Linked DNA regions of Homo sapiens: regions 2, 3 and 4 are each linked to region 1. The links come from fine-mapping of genetic effects on gene expression. A gene starts in region 1. Each other region holds a variant in brackets. All regions are shown on one strand. Distances are from middle to middle.

Region 1 (5,154 bases):
GAAGGTAATGGTGGGTACAGTAAAGGAATGCTCTAGTTAGGACTCCTGCAGGTCACTGAGTACCACCAATGGAAGTGACATTGAGTCTTGCTAAAAGATCCACCTGAAATATCATGCTTTGGTGAGCAGTGGTGGCATTATGAATCTTTGAAGGTCAAATGACATATAATCATTTTTCACATCTAACATTAACTTTTATAGTTTTGCTAACAGGCATACTTTCTAGCATAATAAATCACTGACTAAAGAACATTTGAAAGGGAGGAAAAAAGAGAAAACTCTAACAATAGTAAGAAAAAAAGCCCAGTGATAGTACCAAAAAATAAAGAAGGCAAAGGAAACAATGGATAAGCCATACCAAGAATTGATAGGGCCGGGTGTGGTGGCTCACACCTGTAACCCCAGCACTTTGGGAGGCCAAGGCAGGAGGATCACTTGAGCCCAGGAGTTCAAGACCAGCCTGGGCAACATAGTAAGATCTCATCTTTATTATAAAATAAATAAATAAGTAAATAAAAGAATTGATAGGTGTTGGAGTACAATATGAACTAGGTACCGAAACAGATGCTGCAAGGGAAATACCCAGGGCAGCAGTGATACCATCATAAAGAGCATAGAAAATAAAATATTTTAAAATGTATAATAGGTTGCCATAAACTTATATGAAAATGAAGACCATTGTCTATAAAGTGTTCACAGTTATAGGTAAAATTAGAAGAGGTGTCCAGTCATTATGCAACCCTTAATGGCAAACACTCCTTCTGTTTCTCCCGTCCTGGAGCCTCCTCTCCCTTCCTATTCTTCAGGGACTAGACCTGAAAGAAGAAATCCTGAAAGAGAACTGCAGACTTCATTGTGGGGTTTGTGCCAGGCACCTTTTGGTCTGTGGGGTCCTAAAATTCAGCTCCACCTCACATCTAGAGTCTCAAAATGATCCAGTCCCAGAGTTTGAAATTTTTCAGCCCAGAGTGGGATGTATTTTTCCAATTCATCAGCCAAAAGGAACTGACCTATTAATAATTCTCGCAAAGGCAAAAAGTGGCCCTGGGTACCACAGATCAATGACTGAGACATCTATTGTTGTCACTATAATTGCCATTATATATGTCATCTGTTTTCAGTTCCCTTTTCGTTTCCCATCCTTTGCTGTTTCCCTCTACCTATGTTCTAGGCTTGCACAAGTTCTGTTTGGCTCTGGCTGGCAGCACACACAGAGAGCTAGTTTGCTGACCCTTATTAATGACATCAGGATATATGTGGCTATATATAGCTTACCACTAACTACGTGTCAAGCACTTTGCTAAATGTTTTACAAGTAGGATCTAATTTAATTCTCATAGCAACCTTGTGACATTTTATCTCTATTTCACAAATGCAGAAACAGGCCCTAAAAGGTGAAGTATCCTGCCCAAGGTCATACAGCTAACAGCCCTCATAGCATAGATTTGAAACCTAGGTATCTGGCTTATCCCAAAGAATAATGTTCTTTTACATTAAGCAATAAAGCCTGTGCCCTAAAACCATACGGACTTGAATTCCAAACCCTAATGCCACCACTTACCAGTTGTGTAATTTGATGAATTATTCAACCTGAGTTTCCTGGAGAATGAAACAGAGTAACATCACTTTAATAAGTGCTTGGGAGCGTTAAATAACCTAACATATAAAAACTGTCTAGCACAGTTGTTGTGGGACATTGAAATCAAGTCACAATATTCAATCCCGCCCTTCCCTCTATTTGATTATCCATTATAGAGGTGGCCTCACAAAGACAACACTAAGGATATGCAAAAAGTGCAGATGATCATTAAGTGCAACATAAATGGTTGATCTGCTCGGTCCCAACGGGTTCTGGCCGTGCGCTTCCTCCACAATCCTGGTGTAGGGAACCCAAAACACTAGACAGAAGAATCTTGAAGCTGGAGGAGAAACGGGAGCTGCTAGACTACTTCTCACAATCTCCTTGTTTACCCTGAAATCAAGAGTCACCTCTTCCCACTCCATCTGCCAGCTTCTCGGGTGCTCTGAAGCGCGCGCCCCCCGCTCAACTGGGCATTGGCTTCACCACGGACGTGGTGTGGGTACCCTATCCCTCTCCCCGCGTGGTGCTGCAGCGATTTCGGGACCTGTCACCCTTCTCTGGGCCACAAGCCCGACCCTCTCCGCCCAGGGAAGGAGGGCGGATCCCAGCCTATCCCCAGCCCCAGGTGCGCGAGCGCCAGGCCCAGGCGGGGCCTTGCGGCCCGGAGCTGAGCCCCGAGCCCGGGCTCCTCCAGGAGGCGTCGGCGGTGCCTGGGTCCAGCCAGGCCGCGACCTAGCTCGGGAGCCTCCCCGCGACCTGCCGATCCCCAGCTGCGCGAAGCCCACGGAGCACTTCCAGCAGCAGGGCCCGGCGGGACCTGCCGCACGGAGCCTGCGGGCTCGGATCCTCCAGGCCAGGACTTTCCTTTTCCCCCGGGCGGTACGGTTGCTGGGCTGCTGCCTCACCGGCCCAGGAACTGGGAGACGCCCGCACTCACGTGGGAGTCTTAGAGGTGGAAGTCGAGCGACGGTGGAGAACAGGTTGGCAGCGTCCGGAGCGACGCTGGGACCGCAGGGATTCAGGAGAACCTAGGGCTGGACTGGCAGAGCAAGGGGGCGGGGAGGGGGCGGGGATGGGGCGGGTCCAGTGCGCGCCCGCCCCGCACAGCCTGCGCGAGGATCAGCCCATCCGCAGGGAGCTGACTCCGGGCTGCATGTCAGCTCCTTGCCAGTAGGCTGGCGCTTCGAGGCCATTCTGGAGGCCAGTCGCTTACTGAAAAGGCAAAACTGACTTTAAGGTAAGTGGTTTGGTGCACCAAAATAAATTCCTTAAGGATTAAATAATTTAAATATTTGAGAAAATTTATGCCATATCTGAACTGAGAAGACTGGGCGCAGTGGCTCACACCTGTAATCCAAACATTTTGGGAGGCAGAGGTGGGAGGATGGCTTGTGCCCAGGAGTTGGAGACCAGCCCCAGCCTGGGGCAAAAAAATGAGACCCCCTCCACCGCTACAAAAAGTAAAAAAAAAAATAGCTGGGCGTGGTGGCACGCGACTGTGGTCCTAGCTACACAGGAGGCTGAGGCAGAAGGATCACGGGCTCAGGCTGCAGTGCGCCATGTTCGTGCCTCTGCACTCCAGCCTGGGTGACAAACAGACCCTGTCTTAAAAAAAAAAAAAAAAGTTACCAAGACAAATTATCAACATGAAAATAGCGAAATACATCTTAGCTGTTAACCATGCTTATATGCTTATTTAGGGCATTCTTAATGTGCACACTACCAAGGACATTTTATATCCTTCATTACCTTTAATCCTCATGATTCTGTGATGTATTTGGTGCCAGTATACCCATTTTACAAATGAAAACTGCAATTGAGTAACATGAGATTTGGAAGCTAAATAATTGGCCTACTTTTCTGAAGTCACACAAATTGTAAGTAAACTAACCTCAAAGTGCAGGCTGGACTGCTTGCTACTCCATGCTGCCTGCAGCTAAACAAAACACTATGGAAAATATTGATACATGACTGCTCGATAATTTAGAACTTCTTCCCAAGGAAACAGGGACAAAATCAATAAAACACATTGGGAAAAATATTGGTCCCAAACCTGACAGAGTTAGTATCTTAAGTTCATTTATTTTTTATTTTTATTTTTTTGAGACGCAGTTTCGCTCTTGTTGCCCAAGCTGGAGTGCAATGGCGCGATCTCAGCTCACCACAACCTCCGCCTCCCGGGTTCAAGCGATTCTCCTGCCTCAGCCTCCTGAGTAGCTTGGGATTACAGGCATGTGCCACCATGCCCAGCTAATTTTGTATTTTTAGTAGAGCCAGGGCTTCTCCATGTTGGTCAGGCTAGTCTTGAACTCCCGACCTCAGATGATCCACCCACCTTGGCTTCCCAAAGTGCTGAGATTACAGGTGTGAGCCACCGTGCCTGGCCTCTTAAGTTCATTTAAATTGATAAGAAAAAAAAAAACACCCAATAGAAAAATGGGTGAAGGTTTTTTTTAATTACAGAAGAAATGGAAAGGGTATCAAATGAAGAAACACAGACATTCTTAAGTAAAAACTTTACTCTTAATCCAAGAAATGCAAACTAAACATTTTTATTTTATTTATTTTTAAGAAATGGGGTCTCACTATGTTGCTCAGGCTGGTGTTGAACTCCTGGGTTCAAGTGATCTGCCAGCCTTGGCCTCCCAGAGTGCTGGGATTACAGGTGTGAGCCACCGTGCCTGGCCTGCAAATTAAACATTTTTAAAATCGTATCAGTGCCAGTGAGGATTCATTCATTTATTCAACAAACACTATGTGCATTGCTCTAGACTTGTGAGCAAGACAGACAGGAACTTCTATCCTAGAGGACGGTTGAATCTTAAGTTAGTTGTTAAAGACAAATGAGATTTCAGCCAGCCAGAAGTGCCATGAGAAAAGTTAAGGCAGGGTGATGTGATAGAGGGACTTGAGGATAGTGTGAGCTTATTTAGACTGGGGATCTGAAAAGAGCTCTCTAAGATGGTATTTGATCTGAGATTTGAAAAATAAGCAGCAGCCAGTTATGCAAATATCTGGGGCACAGGAATGGTAGCAGGGGCAAAGATAAGAACAAACTGCCAGTGCAGAAACAAGGCCTTTGTTGCTGAAGTGTACTGGGGAGGTACTACAAGTGTTTTAGTTTTTACTAAAGGTTTCTGGCTCTATTTTTGATTCTACTTTCACATGTAAATGAAGGTTCTTAGGCACCACTAATTGGATTGCAAGTTTCAAATTTTCCAGAATATATAGTATCCATACCTAACCTTCAAAACTTTTCTTTACACTAAAATAGGGAAAGAGTAGAGGCAAGGGGATGGTTTTGTACTTTTAGTATCCAAACAGCAATCTATCATCTAAATACATAGTGCCATAGCTATTCAATGTATTTATTCATTTTCCTTAACTACAGTCTAAATCCCATTCTACTTTTGTTCTCATTCATTCACCCATTAATTTAACATGTGTTGAATTCATGTTAGATACCAAGCCTAACAAGGTTCTAGAAATAAAACACCACCTGGTGGAGAGTTAAATGCATGTTAAAATGAAAGATATTCACAAAATATTCTTTCTCCTATGTATTTTGATCC
Region 2 (5,143 bases), 60 kb before region 1:
CAGAAAGCTATTACTCAGGTGTTCAGACTTACAGGCCTACACTAAGCTGCCTTTCAATTCCTAAAAATGTAAAGAAACTCAAATGTTATTGTTTCTCTCTCTCTCTCTCTTTTTTTTTGGTTTCATATTTCTTTGATTCTCATAATTAGCCTATGAGGGCAGATATTGAGAAACAGACAGAGCAGGGATTCAGGTTTTCTGAACCTAGTCATTATGTTATCTCTAAAACTGTAGAAATGGGTAGCTGTGGACCTTTCAGAAAATAAGTAAAGCACATATTATAAAGTCAGTCACATACAAAAGATGAAAACTTGCATTTTCCTTTTCCACACATACAACACTGTGGTGAAAGTTAGGGATCCAGTATAAACCAAATGCTTCATTTGCATCAGCATAGAAATAATAATTTGCATAAAAAATGTATGGGAGTAAAGAAATATATAAGTAAATGTGTTAAGAATCTCAACTTTATCTGTGCACATTCATATGTCAGGCAAGCCTTTCTCAAATTGATCCCAAGCATTACCAGTAAAGAGCATAGTGTACCTTTTGCTATGAAATTTCTATAGCTAGTGCTAAACACGATAGGTACAAACATGACAGGTCAAGCACCTGTGGGACAAATGGAAAAGATCATACTAGGAAAGGGATAAGTTTCTCCCTGAGGTTCTCCCACAAGCTTAGGCAAGAGGAAAACCCTACTTTTTACAGTATTTTTATATAGTATTGGTTAATATGTTTTTATTAAAAATAAATATTTAAAATTTTATCTCTACAGAATAAGTAAATATTTAAAAAGCAAAAACAGAGTCCTGAGCACTGAGTCTAATAATTCAGAGAGTATAAGGACCAATAGGAAGAGAATTCCTTGGCAGAGACAAAAAAATGCAATTCAGACTAACATCATGAGTCAAAGGCAACAAGTCCATTCTCTAGCACACCAGAAACTTCATCAAATGATAGTCAGAAGCAAAGCAGACATGATTCCTGGATTCACTTAATTCAGACAGTCTGTCTTGGTGGTGATCTTAGCCATTGCATGCTAATCAAAATCTAATCCAATGTTTTTAATTACGATTTCAACACCAGTTCTTTGTAATTGCTCCTTCCAGAAGAAAGAAAATTCTGAAGGAGGAGAGGAAGAAGGAAAAGAAAATGAAGATAAACAAAAAGAAAATGAAGATAAACAAAAAGAAAATGAAGATAAAGGAAAAGAAAATGAAGATAAAGATAAAGGAAGAGAGCCAGAAGAGAAGCCACTGGACAGACCTGAATGTACAGCAAGTCCTATTGCAGTGGAGGAAGAACCCCACTCAGTTAGAAGGACAGTTTTACCCAGAGGGACTTCTCGTCAATCACTCATTATCAGCATGGCTCCTTCTGCTGAGGGCGGAGAAGAGGTTCTTACTATTGAAGTCAAAGAAAAGGCTAAGCAATAAATGTTTGATTATCTTTAGATGTGATATAGCTAGTTCCCAAAGTGATTGTACCTAGGATTGTAACTTAAATTAACGAGGGGAAACGACATGCTGGGACCCTTGAGAAACGAAAGGCAAATCCCTAGCTTAGTTTCTAGGACTTATCTGAGAGTGTGATTTCATGCAGTGGTAATAAGAAGATTATTAAAAGCCATCCCTATTCTCCGTTTTCATTAACTTTATGCAATTGCTATATCTTCTAATTGTATGTAGTAAGTTTCCTTTTCCTTTGGTTCTTTCCTGATGATGTCTCTTCCTTCCAGTTTTATTAGCTTGCTCTTGGCTGTGATGTGATTCACTAACCTTTTCTCTTAATTTTTATTGTGTTTAATTTCTTCTTTGGCACTCTAAAGCCTGGCTAATTGTTCTAGGTTTATGAATTTCACCTCTTACATGTAAAGGGTATAAGATTTTAATGTAATAGGTCAAAAATCAGATTATTTTCATTCAAATGAGGATGATGAGTCACTGTAATATCAAAAAATCCCCAGCAGCTGGGACTGAAGGGAAGCAGAGATCATGAAGCTTTCTGAATGAGAAGTCTGATTTTTGGAACAGTCCCCTGAAGACCAATGTTGGTCGGCAGAATTAGCAAACTGGCAAAATCACATTGCAGGAACATATTGGAAAAATTGTACCCTTTACTAAAGAAATAAACTTCAATATTTTCTCTTCTAACCAACTTAAAAGACACCAATCTACCTAACTCATCTGGCTCAAGGGACTTGGACTGGAGGATACAGGCTAAAGTGACACTTATCAGAATCTTCCTCAAGCACTTGCTGGAAAAGATATCAGATTGGAACTTCTTGTTTAAAATTAAGCTTTAGTAAAACAAAGTGATGAGGTTAGGAAGGCAGACTCTACACATGTCAGATTGACATATCCCCACAATTTCCGGAACCTACATGTATAGCTGTTTACAAAATCTCCAAGTTAATTAAGGGCACTTTAGGAAGTTGTCCTCATGAATTAGCTAGCATTAGCATAATTACCGACGTTGCATGCTGTGAGGAGGCTACAAAGGCCAGGCTGGTGTCGGAAGTAATAATACATATAGAATTCCATTCTAATAAATGCCATTAGTGTATAACATCAAGTTCTGTGTAATGAGGCTATTTCCAAGTCTCCAAAGATGGTCACTGTAACAGCACTTTGCTGAGAGGGTTTTAACAAATCATATTAGCCAAAAAGCCTACAACATAGATGCATTTAGCAAACCATGTACAAATCAATCACTATAATAAACTGCATCATTTGATA[G/A]AGTCACCGTTTTTGCATGTAGTGTTAGAGTATCACAAAATATAACAAGTTTTACTAAAGGATGGTTGGTTTTTTCAGGATTTAAGGGAATATGGACAAATTGTTAAATAGTATTTATTTGATAAATGGGAGTTTGTATGCAGAAAGAGTGAATTGCGTATAAAAAGGGTGATTTAAAAACCCAGAAACAAAAGGTAGAATAGGGCTGAAGCATCTGATAATAGGAAAAGAAAAGGACAAAAGTCCTCAACTTGTGAGCAATATGCTTTCCCTTTACACCCTGTAATTTATTCAAATGATATTAAAATACAAGACCATTGCAATTTATGCTTTTCGCCTGGCAGTTATTTTCCCCCCCAAGCTATCCTGTTTCAGATAATATCAATTTATTTCCAATCCATCAGACTAAAATCTAAGAAAATTCAAGAACTCTTTTATTGTTGATTTGGTGCCACCAAATTCTTTTTCTTTTTAAATCTTTCTAATTATCCTTTCTTTTTCAATCCCATTGCTAACACCCAGAACATATTTTCTGTTCAATGCAAATAAACATTCACTTTTTACCTATAGTCTGCTCTTGTCACTGGTCTGCCCTCTTAGTCCCTTTGCTATTGGAAAATAAAATCTTTCTAAAACCCTACTTTTGACCATGTTACTTCCCTGCTCAGTGGCTGTATTAGAGTTTTCCAGAGGGAGAAAAAAAAAATAGGGGATATATATCTATCTCAGGCCATTGGATTCAGACTGGAACTTAGACCACTGGTTCTTCTGGTTCTGATGCCTTCAGACTCAGACTAAAATTATACAACGGGCTTTCCAGGGACTCCAGTTTGTAGATGGTAGATCATGAGACTTCTTTTCCTTCATAATTTCATGAGCCAATTCCTTATAATAAATATATTTAAATATATATTATATATTACAAATATGTGTAGAGATTTATTATATATTTTAATATATATCATATAGAGATATTTATCATGTTTTTTATTTATATATTTTATATATACATGATTTATTATTAGGAATTGGCTCACACAATTGTGAAAGCTGAGATGTTCCATGATCTGCAGTCTTTAAGCTGGAGACCCAAGAGAGCTGGTGGTGTAGCTCTAGTCTGAATCCAAAGGACTGAGAATTAGGAGAGCTAATGGTAAAGGTTGCAGCCTGAGACAGGAGAAGATTAATGTCCCAGGATGAGCAACCAGGCCAAGAGAGCAAATTCTCCCTTCCTCCATATTTTTGTTCTATTCAGGCCCTCAACAAACTGTATTATGCCCACCTACATTGGGGAGGGCAACCTGCTTTACTCTGTCCACCAATTCAAATGCTGATCTCATCCACAAACATACCCAGAAATAATGTTTTACCAGCTATCTGGGCATCCTGTGGCCCCATCAAGTTGACACAAAAAACCAATCATCACAGGAACCTACTAGTCCTCCTACCAGTTAAATCCTATTTATACAAATTTAATTTCCACTACCCTAACCATATCCTCCACTTAAGTGGGTCTCCTTGCTTTTTCTCTGGAACAAATACCTGCCCTTCTTCCTCTGGCCTTTGTCGCTGCTGCCTGCCTTACTCTGGAAGGTTGTTGTCTCTCCTCCGTCACTTACCTCTGTCCTATACTTCCAACTCTGCTCACATTTTCTGTCTCCCAACTGCCTCTAAAAACATCAACCTATGATGGTTCTATCTCACGGGATTATCTTTTGTACTTTCAGGAAGTGCCACATAGTACAGCATGTCCTCTAATTTCCTCTTAATTGTAAATTATTTCTGCTTAATTATAAATTATAAGAAGGCAACTAGCTCTTGTGCTTTCTTTGCATAATGACAAAAAGCCCAGTTTTTTAAAGGGAGAGAGAATATGAGTAAGTAATTCATGGAAGAAAAACAAATAAGCAATTGACAGAGAAAAGGTGCTTGACTTCACTTGTGCTCAAAGAAATACAAATCAGAACAAAATGGAATACCACCTTATACCCATCTAACTGGAAAAATACTTGAAAGCAGATAATAGTGCCAAGTGCTGGCAAGTGTGTACACTGGCTCTACTATTTTAGCAATCTTAGCAAAATTTTGGCAGCACACCTTAGAACTCAGCAGTACCATTTCAGAGTATATATGCCAGAAAATTCTTAAGCAGGTCCATAAGAGGAAATCCATGAGGATATATAGCATTGTTTATAGTACAAAGGAATTGGAGGCAACTCTAATATCTACCTCTAGGAGAATGGGAAAAAAAATATGGTGTGTGGGAGTATAGTTGTGTTTGTAAGATGAAGTTCTATCCAGCAGTTAGAAGTAATGAATTAGATTTACATAAAGCAAAAAGGATAGATATTTTTAAAATACTAGTATAGTTTGTTTAAAAGAAAAAAGAATGAAATCTTCAG
Region 3 (5,154 bases), 53 kb before region 1:
CATACACATGTGGGGCTTTTACGTAAAGGCCATGGAAAAGATGCAGCAAGAGAAAAAGAGCACAGGCAAGCAGTGGGAGCCTGACAATCATCCCATGAGCAAGCTCCCCAAGGTGGTTACACAAGGATCTGACCAGACTCTGTCTCAGGGATTGAACCACCAAGATCTGTGCAAGGAATCTAGGCTTTGGGAGAGCTCAAAGCTATAAAATCAACAGTGGGCTTCATATACCCCTCTCTCCACATATCAAAGGCATGCTGCCTAACCAATTAGATCACTAGAAAACCTTTAGTGAAGAAACTGACTCGGAGTCGCCAGAGTTTAGCACTTTAAACACCGCATTATTCTCACTGCCCTTATCTTGGCCAAGAGTTAAAATCCAGACATCCAGGGGTCCCCAGAGATAATAGGTGAGCTTTTCCCTACTTCTTTCTTTCCCTACTACTGCTAATCCACATATATCTCTTCTCTGGACTCCCTATAGTCCATGTTCATTAATCATTTGACTAATTAATTGATGATTTATAGATACAGCAGGTCCTCAAGTAATGTAGTTACATACAATGTCGTTTTGTTATAACATGAGTGAGAAAAAAATAGATTCCTCTCTACAGCCACTGTCTGCATGGATTTTGCACGTTCTTTTCATGACTGTGTGGGTTTCTCCAGTTTTCTCCTATGTCCCAAAGAAGTGCCTGTTAGGTGGGCTGCTGTGTCTAAATGGTCCCAGTCGGAGTGAGTGTGGGAGTGTGTTTGTGTGTGTGTGTGGGTGTGTGTGTTTGTGAATGTGGGTGTGTGTGGGTATGTGTGTGTGTGTGGGCATGTGTGATTGTGTGGGTGTGTGTGAGTGTGCATGTGTGTGAGTGTGTGGGTGTGTGTGAATGCACCCTGTGATGGATGGCATCCTTTCCAGGGTCAGTTCTTACCTGTGTCCTTCACTGCTGGGATATTCTTAGGTCACCTGAGACTCTGAACTGGAATAATTGAGTAAGTAATTATCTTGTTTTAATTAATCTTTCCTAAATGTGCGTACAGCTCACACTTATTTCAATGTTTAATATTATAGGTGTCTTGGTCATTATTTTGAAGTTTGGTGATGTTTTTATGACCAGAAATATGCCATGGGAACTTAACTCTTGTTTATACTAATCAGCCTATGGTAAAATTGGTTAATGTCAAGTGAAGACTTATTATATATGAAAGTTCTTCCCAGACCAGGTCTTTCCTCACTGCCCAGGTCTGACCTCGACAATTAATCACCAGAAATACAGTGCAGCATGGGCTGGTTAAAAGAGATGTATCATGATAAGATCTGCAGAGAAAGAAGGAAGAAGCCACTCAGCAGAGGTTCTATATTTTAAATCTTAAATAGTTAAAGAAGGAAAACAATATCTCTATAAGAAGTAATTTTTTCACCCTGTGGGCACAAGTGTTTATTTCAACAAGCAATTTCCTCTGATTCACTGAAGCCATTCCAAGTGTTATTTGCTCAAAATTGATTATAATATCACCTTCTATTTCACTTTTATCTGTGGCCTCCAAAACTCAGCACAACCTATAAGCTGTCCTCTGGTCTTAAAAATGCCCAGCTCTATTTTGCATTGTCAAACTACATTAATTTGCTTTTGCTAACTAAAATGTAGTAAGTTAAAATAATCATTTATTAGCTCCTGAATCATTTATTGGTTTCTATAGATTGCCAATTTGAGCTCGTTCTTCTGGTCTTAGCTGGGCTAATTCATGCTCTATAGTCAGCTGCCGGATTGACTGGGGGCTGGCTGGTGTAGAACAGTCTCAGGACAGTCTCAGATGGGACAGCTTTTTTCTAACCACATGGTCTGTCATCCTGAAAATGGGTACACTGGGTGTGGAGACTGCACAAGGTTCTGAGAGGAGACAAAGCAGAAGTGAGCCAGGCTCTTGAGGCATAGGCTCAGAATTCACACATCATTATGTCTACACATTCTATTAGCCAAAGTAAGTCACAAAACCAGCCTAGATTAAAGGGGTAGAGAAATGAAATCCACTTCTTAATGGGGGGACAGCAAAGTCACATTGCAAAAGGAGTGGATCCAGAGGCAGCGGAAGGATTCTGGCCATTTTTCAATCTATCAAACAGAATTGTCACATAAAACACAGGACACTCAGTTAATGAATCCTTTTTTTTTTTTTTTTTTTTTTTTTTGAGATGGAGTCTCACTGTTGCTCAAGGCTGGAGTGCGGTGGCACGATCTCAGCTCACTGCAACCTCCACCTCCCGGGTTCAAGCGATTCTCCTGTCTCAGCCCCCCGAGTAGCTGGGATTACAGGCGTGTGCCATCACGCCTGGCTACTTTTTGTATTTTTAGTAGAAACGGGGTTTCACCATGTTGGCCAGGCTGGTCTCAAAGTCCTGACCTCAGGTGATCTGCTCACCTCAGCCTCCCAAAGTGCTGAGATTACAGGCGTGAGCCA[C/T]CATGACCAGCCTGAATAATTTTTTAGTATAGATATGCTCCATGCCATAATTGGGACTTGCCTATATGAAAAAATATTCATTTTTGTCCAAAATTCAAATTTAACTTGACATCTTGTATTTTTGTTTGCTAAATCTGCCAACCCCACACAAGGACCACGTCAAAAATAAGCAAAACCTTTCTTTAAACAAGAGAGAACTTGGAACTAGAAATGACTTTTAAATTGCACAATTTCATCCAGGTGCAGTGGCTCACGCCTGTAATCTCAGCACTTTGGGAATTTGAGACCAGCCTGCCCAACATGGTGAAACCCCGTCTCTACTAAAAAAACAAAGAAACAAAAAGATTGGCTGGGCGTGGTAACATGTACCTGTAATCCCAGCTACTTGGAAGGATGAGACACAAGAAAAAAGAATCACTTGAACCCGGGAGGCAGAGGTTGCAGTAAGCTGAGATCGTGCCACTGCACTCCAGCCTGGGTGACAGAGCGAGACTCTGTCTCAAAAAAAAAAATTAAAACGCCAGGTCCGGTGGCTCACACCTGTAATCCCAGCACTTTGGGAGGCTGAGGGGGGTGGATCACTTGAGGTCAGGAGTTCCAAACCAGGCTGACCAACATAGCGAAACCCCTGTCTCTACTAAAACACAAAAAATTAGCCAGGCATGATGGTGCATGCCTGTAGTCCCAGCTACTCGGGAGGCTGAGGCAGGAGAATCGCTTGAACTTGGGAGGCAGAGGTTGCAGTGAGCTGACATCGCGCCACTGTACTCCAGCCTGGCGACAGAGCAAGACTCCATCTCAAAAATAAATAAATAAATAAATAAATAAATAAATAAATAAATAAATAAAATTAGCTGGGTATGGTGGCGGGTGCCTATAATCCCAGCTACTTGGGAGGCTGAGGCAGGAGAATTACTTGAACCAGGAGGCAGAGGTTGCAGTGAGCCAAGATCATGCCACTGCAATCCAGCCTGGGCAACACAGTGAGACTCTGTCTATAAACAAAGAAGGACTTAAAAAAAGAAAAATAAAATGAATTGCACAACTTCACCAATTGTAGTATTAGAATGGGCCGAAAGCTCTAAGTATACTCAAAGGAAAGGAGTAACTTGGTCCCCTCTTAACATAATATATAATAAGCTTATCGAACCTGCAGCCTGCAGGTCGTATGCAGCCCAGACAACTTTGAATGCAGCCCAACACAAATTTGTAAGCTTTCTTAAAACATTATGAGTTTTTTTGTAAATTTTTTTTTTTGGCTTATCAGCTACCATTAGTGTTAGTTTATTTTATGTGTGGCCTAAGACAATTCTTCCAATGTCACCCAGGGAAGCCAAAAGATTGAACACCCTTGATATATAAAAATCTATTTTATTTCAGTTGTATTAGATGAAAAATTGCTACACAGAAAACCAATAAGAGAAGAATCTGTACTTTTAGTAATTTGGACCTGTTCTATATTTACAATAATGCCTTTACCCACCTACGGGAATTTTTTAAATCTTTAGAAGGTGTTAATTAATCATTATGCTGTTCTGGAATTTATTATAACTAATCAGACCAAAGATACTTGAAACTGATATTTTAAGTACCATACCCACACGCTGTAGTAAAATTTGATGTTTTTCTCTATGGGTTTTTATGACTGACTGTATTTTTCCTACTATAACTTTTGTGACTAGAAGTGACGGTGCAAAGGTCAAATAAATGTGCATCATTAAGCAATGCAACCTGACATTTCTAGATAATAACTCCCTCGGATGAGGAAAGGGAGTGATACCTGAAAGGTCACAGCCCCCTTACTGTCCGTTTGCACCTCTAGTCATCTCTGCCCAATGCACACAATGATTCTGCCACAAATTTATGAGAATCCTCTCTGCTGGGAATCCTAAGCAATACAGAATTCAGCATATAGTGTATGCTAAGGGTTATTAACTGGGCTCGTGATACAGCTTCTTGCATCCAGCTTTGAATAAATCAAGCTCTGTTGTTTACACCAGAATCTTAGACTTGCAAGGGAATTTAACGATTCCTACCCCAAGTCCCATTTTACAAAACATTCGTGTTTTGTAATAAGACCCTTTGTCCAGGGCTACGCCAGAGTAAAGCAGAGTTCAAGGTCAAAAGATAACACATGCTTTTCAAACATGAAGCCCATGGAAAGGCTTGATAAAAGTAGCATCCACCTAAAGCAGGCCTTTTTCAAATAAACAAGTACATTTGCCAAGATTTTATGGGGTCAAATGATGATCAAGTCTGCCATGTTAGGACCATATTTATATTCCAAATCTGAGAGGAAAAATTCAGATTTAGCATGTCCTTCAGAAAAGGACTAACCACAGATTTCATTAAAATAGAAATATGTGTGGTCGGGCATGGTGGCTTATGCCTGTAATCCCAGCACTTTAGAAGGCTAAGGCAGGCAGATCACTTGAGGCCAGGAGTTTGAGACCCTGTCTCTATAAAAAATAAAGAAATAAAATATGTGGAAGATCAATATTGTTTGAATTTCAATATCACATTTGTAAAAGTGAATAAAGAGATTTAGTTATGAAACAAAACGGTTCATTCATACATTCATCTCCCTATACTAACAATGTTTCTCAACCCACGCTTTCTTAATCCATGCCACTGACAATGCCAATTTCTTTGCTGAAAGGCTCTTCCGCTTTCTCTACATTATAAAGCCCCATAAAACCT
Region 4 (5,154 bases), 47 kb before region 1:
GGCCTCACTGAGTGATGCTTAAATAAAGACCTGAAGGAGGTGAGGGAGCAAGGTTCCCAAGTGGCTAGGGGAGGCTGGGTTTTCAAGAAGGGGCAACGGCAAGTGCAAAAGCCCTGAGCCAGGAATATGCCAGGCATATTCAAGTAAGAGCAAGAAAGCCCATGTGGTTGGAGTGAATGACAATGCAGAGATTAGTAGAAAAGAAGTTTAGAAAAGGAAAGAGCAGGAGGGGCCAGACCATCGAGACACTGAGAAGTTGGTAGGATTTGTGATTGAAGGCATGGAGGGAGACTTGTTAGAGTTGTGGTACTAAAGGGAGTGAACTGCAAAAGTGGTTGTTATTGAAAAACTGAATACTTGAAAATGCGATCAGGGAGGGTTTTTTTTAAATCAATAACGATAAGGTCTAGCATATGACCTTCAGAATGTGGGCTGAGGTTGAATAGAGAGCAGTATTATTATAAGGAGGGATAGAGAGTGATCTAATCTAATGATGCAAGATTCAAAGCCAGAGGTTTTAAAGAGGAGGGAAAAGCTCTCTGAAAGCAGAAGGGAGGATCAAGGAGGGTACCTACGCAGCCTCCAAGCCCAGGGGTAGATCAGGAAGAGGAAATTACCATCACTTGAGAGGGCAGCAGAGGAAGCAATGTTCTTCAAGAGAGGCAGGTTTTAATTAGAATTAAAAGGTGAAGGGACTATTCAGAAAAAAACATTGATATCAGAAATTTCTGCTAATGAACGACCCAGTTCTTGAGGGCAGAGTGGAAGGGTATGGGGCACTGGAGAGAAGTGGGATATGGAGTCAGAATACAGGGGTTGGAAACTAATGGTCTGGGCTTCTTGTGAGGACTGGCATGAACAGTGATCACAGGATGGTAGTGGAGAGCAATGAATGATAGCAGGATGGGCAGGAGAAGCATCTTTCCAGAAGCAGCATTCAAGGGACCCTCTTTCCTCATCACCATGGATGCCTGAAGGCACAAGAAGGGCCAGTCTTACTCCAACACAGCAGAGTCCCTCACCTTGCTCACTCTTGTTCTGTTTAACATATATACTGTCTCCTTTTCCATATTAGATCATAAGCTTTGAAGTCAGCAAGAATTTTTTTACTCTGTTTGAATTCCCCTGTTGATTGCCAGTAATAGACTACCCAATAAATATTTGTTCAAAGAAAAATTGAATACTTCTTACTGAAAGGAAGGGATGGTTGAAAAAAGCAAATTATTTCCTACTCAGACTTTTCTCTGAGAACTCCTTAAAGCTCCCCATCCTTGAAATTCTTCTGATTCCAGTCCTAGAAGACCAGGTGCTGCTATAAAACTTGGTGCTTTGTGAGCACCAATAAATGCTTTGTAAGCATCTGCTGATGAAAGACCAGAGATAGCTCTCCTTTCCCAAGCAGTAAGAAGTCACAATTCTGCTTATAATAATACTTTCCATCATTTTGGAGGAAGGAATCAACAGCCAAGCCAAAGTGTAATTCTGTATGGACATTTCAAACTACTGTGGTTTTTCTGGAGAATCTGGCCAAATGTAGTGATGATCAGGAAGTGATGTTATTTGGTGACAAGTGACAAGGGTGATGGTCTTGCTACATGCAAGGGTTTGGCATTCCTGAAGACATATTATCACCAGGTCTGAACCAGCCTCTGCACCATTAAGGAACCAACAAGATACGGGTCTACCAGACAATTTGATAGTGAGGCAGGAAAAGCTCAGAATTTGGAAACAGACCTAGAATCAGACACTTAGAAAGTATGTGACCAAACAGCTGAGTGTCTGCCAGAAGGTGACCACTATCAGCTCTGCCATCTGGCCTTCACCAAGGCAAAGCCATTGCGACTAGACCCACATTTGGTCACAGGGTTCCATGTGGAACTCTGTGGGCTTCTGAACTCATCTGTCTGCCCTAAAAAGTATGGTCCTCTGGTTTTTCAAATGCACAAATATAATCACATCATTCATTTGCTTAAATCAATTTAGTGGCATCCCATTACCCTAAGCCTCAGTCTGAACTCCCTTACCTGCCCCAAAAGGCCCTCAGGATGTAAACACCACCAACCACTCCACCTCATTTCTTTTACCACTTTCCCTCTTATACTTTATATTTCAGCAAACTCAAACTTCTGTCCACTCCTA[G/A]AACATTCAACTCTATACTTGCTGTTGGCCTGACAGCTTCATAAGTGCTTTTAACCTTCTTCACCTAGCTAACTTTCAGGTCTTAGCTTACATGGCACATCCTCAGGGAAGTGCTCCTTGCCTCTCAGATGGGTTAGGTCTCTCTCTACTGTATGTTGTTTCACGCACAGATCTCACATCTCTATAATTACTTGCTCAATGTTTTCTCTCCCCCACTAGACCATTATTTCTACAAAGGCAGCAATCGTGGCTGTCTTGGTTACCACTGGCAAAGTCCTGCCCAATGCCCATGACAAAAGCAATTAAAACATTTTTTTTAAAATTAGGTGGTTACACTATCCTTCTTAACATGATTGATAATCTCAGGCCATTCTAGCTATAAGCTAAGAATCTTTCCTTTACTGTACCCAGAAGAGTATCTTGGACCCACTCAATATCTTTTAAACAAATAAATCCCATAAAATAATATCCCCCAAATTGTTTAATTCAGTAAAATATGAAGTCAAAGGCCACCTAAAACACTATATTTTATTTTTAACTTTTCTATTGTTTTGGTCACATGTAAAGAATAAAAATGAAAACACACTACTCTGTCACATCAAGAAATAACTTTATCCAAAAGGAATTCAAATGTAAGATATATTTAGCATCAATTCATATATTAGTAACTTACACATGTATTGTCAAGTATGACATCCATAAAAGCACAAAACAGTTTCTAACACGTTCCATCAAACTTCTGGCGTACTTTATGTGTCATTTCCATGACTACTAACCACATATATAGAGACTAGGGGATACTTAGTGAAGACAGCTTTCCAGGAAGTTTACAAAATTGAAGAAAAAAAAAGTATGTCCAAATATGGCATAAGTAGCAATGGGGCCCTGAATTTACTTTGGAAAGATTGCCTAAGGCACCACTATAATGAACAGTTGTAAATCTCTGATCAGACTTCAAATTTTTCTGGTCTTAAAATTGCAATTCTAACCACAAGGTTAGGTGACTAGATTAGCTGGTATATTATTTCCTCTGTGCCAGCATCTGTAAGAAATATTACATCTATCCTGGGCACCGTCACTCCGATATATATTTGTAATAGATCTGATTATATGAGGTGTGAAAGTCAATATGGGTAATTTTTCTTTAAATGCATTTTAAGAACAAACAGCACTTAAATGAATGGTGGCACAACAGGGAAAAGGACTATTTTAATGTAAAACAATATTAAATCAGCGTATGATGAGGTTGAGTGCTGAAACTGTGAAAACTGATAATTTAGAAATTGTAAATGCTTTTATTCAAAACTGTAAAAAGGCACCAATTACCCTAGTTTGCTGGAATCACAGTTCTTATGAATAATAGCATCTACTGATGAACATGATCATGAATTAAATGTTTTAAATTTTAAAACAATTTTAAAATAGAATAATTCTGATAAAATCAGAATATAAAATAATGAAGACCAAATCCAATTGACAGTGATTACCTGTTATTTGGCTGAAGAAAACCAGGAATGCTCATAACCAGCAGTTCCCAAGCACCTTGTGCAGGTGACTCAGGGGCTGCTGTGGAGCTGGTTAAGGAGAAGGAGGATATGCCCAGTGACTGGGACCCTGCCACAGCATCAAACAGATAAGCTCACTTCTGTCTGTTTTACTGTACATTGAGAATATGTGTAAGTCATTTTTTAAAAGGCTTCTTGTGATTAAAAGAGAAAATTCTGAAAACCACAGCAACATATCTATGCTGTTTCCAAGCATACAAAGAGAATTAGAACATCTGAGACAACTATGGCTCCAAACAATCAGAAGAAGGGTTAGTTTTCTTTTCTCCTATTGATAATGTCAAAATGATGTGTCATCTATTGAGCCATACTATGGAGTAGCAGGCTACTAGTTAGATGCCTTCCCCAGTTAACAGCACATATCCAAAGGACAGCTAGCCAAGTGGGAAGGTGGTAGGTAAATGCTCATCTGGGCTAGGCAACCACCACAGCAAGCAGGTCCCCTCTCAGCCTGGCCTTGGCAATGAGCTGCTTCTGAGAAGCCACAGCTATCTGTGGTTGAGAGCTCACTCCCTTGAGGCATTGCAGAGAACAAGAGACATGGGCTGTGGGGCAGCTTTTCAATAAAACTGAGAGGCACATCAACATGGCACTGTATGTGTCCACTTAAGGATATATGATAAACATGCAATTTCAAAAGGTAAATTATTAAAGATAATTGGCCAATATATAGATATGCATAGTTTTTAGCACATAGGCCCTCAATAAAATATTAGGATCTATTCTGAAAATGTAATGTTCACTAAGTAATACGCTGTAAAAGGTAAAAGTCAGGAAAAGAAATTCAACTCTTAAAAAAAAAAAGCACATAAAATCCACCCTATCTTAATGCAGCAGTTGGAAAAGTTTTCTTTTTTCTTTCCTTTTTCTAAGTTGCAGTAGGTTTTATACCTAATAAGGTATGCTGTAGACATAGGAAATATCACATTATTAAATTGTAAAATGCAATTTTGATTAACAGATAACTGGTATCGTGAGTTTAAAAATCAGATGAAAATGGTTCTTAAAAAAAGGAGAAAATGACTAAGTGGATCTGTACAAATCAATATATGGGACCTTAGCAAGGAAAGTATAAAATTTTTTTTTAGTAAGCAGTTTTTCATTAGTTAGAAGGAAACGGAATTCTGAATTTCACCTTATATGTTTGGTCCTCTTATCTTTCCTGGACAAAACAGTCCTAACCGTTTTAACAAATCTCAATTAAAGTAATCTAATAATGTAGAATTCAGGACAACCTACCATCTGTGCATCTACAATATCCTGAAAGTCTTGCTCAGTTAATGAAAAAAAAAGCCAAATCTGACCATGTTTACAGTTTTCCACAATAAAATAAAATATCTAGAAAGGCAAATAAAAATGGCTTACTTACATGAGGTTATTTTTACTTGTTGATTGTACATTTAAAAAACTGAGTATGTGCCTTTTCCTGCTCATTCAGTACTTTTCATAA

Direction of the effects. Positions count from the first base shown, and alleles are read on the strand shown. Sizes are in standard deviations (SD) of each study's normalised expression. Not every link is listed here.
For the expression in skeletal muscle of the gene that starts at base 2,626 in region 1, C is the low allele of the variant in region 3 and T is the other (small effect, 0.40 SD a copy in GTEx).
In carriers of allele G in region 4, the expression in unexposed skin of the gene that starts at base 2,626 in region 1 tends to be lower than with A alone (small effect, 0.22 SD a copy in GTEx).

The links. PIP is the estimated chance that this variant, and not a neighbour inherited with it, causes the effect. A credible set is the group of variants that fine-mapping cannot tell apart.
Region 2: its variant is the best candidate, but not a certain one, in a credible set for the expression of CPNE3 in whole blood (TOPMed, PIP 0.83).
Region 3: its variant is the best candidate, but not a certain one, in a credible set for the expression of CPNE3 in skeletal muscle (GTEx, PIP 0.84).
Region 4: its variant is the best candidate, but not a certain one, in a credible set for the expression of CPNE3 in unexposed skin (GTEx, PIP 0.82).

Annotation. Positions count from the first base shown.
Region 1 is chr8:86,511,907-86,517,060 of GRCh38, reverse strand. It overlaps CPNE3 (copine 3), which reads right to left and starts at 2,626. Exons shown (of 17, transcript NM_003909.5): 1 at 2,520-2,626; 2 at 1,562-1,599. It also overlaps a transcript of RMDN1 not described here. RefSeq lists silencers at 2,118-2,457, 2,578-2,657.
Region 2 is chr8:86,572,100-86,577,242 of GRCh38, reverse strand. It overlaps CNGB3 (cyclic nucleotide gated channel subunit beta 3), which reads left to right. Exons shown (of 18, transcript NM_019098.5): 18 at 1,113-3,064. The coding sequence ends at 1,439. Among named protein-coding and RNA genes, the nearest start is that of CPNE3, 60 kb to the right of the region's middle. The variant G/A (reference allele first, on the strand shown) is at 2,742.
Region 3 is chr8:86,565,147-86,570,300 of GRCh38, reverse strand. No RefSeq gene overlaps it. Among named protein-coding and RNA genes, the nearest start is that of CPNE3, 53 kb to the right of the region's middle. The variant C/T (reference allele first, on the strand shown) is at 2,455.
Region 4 is chr8:86,558,992-86,564,145 of GRCh38, reverse strand. It overlaps CPNE3 (copine 3), which reads right to left. Exons shown (of 17, transcript NM_003909.5): 17 at 2,648-5,154. Among named protein-coding and RNA genes, the nearest start is that of CPNE3, 47 kb to the right of the region's middle. The variant G/A (reference allele first, on the strand shown) is at 2,140.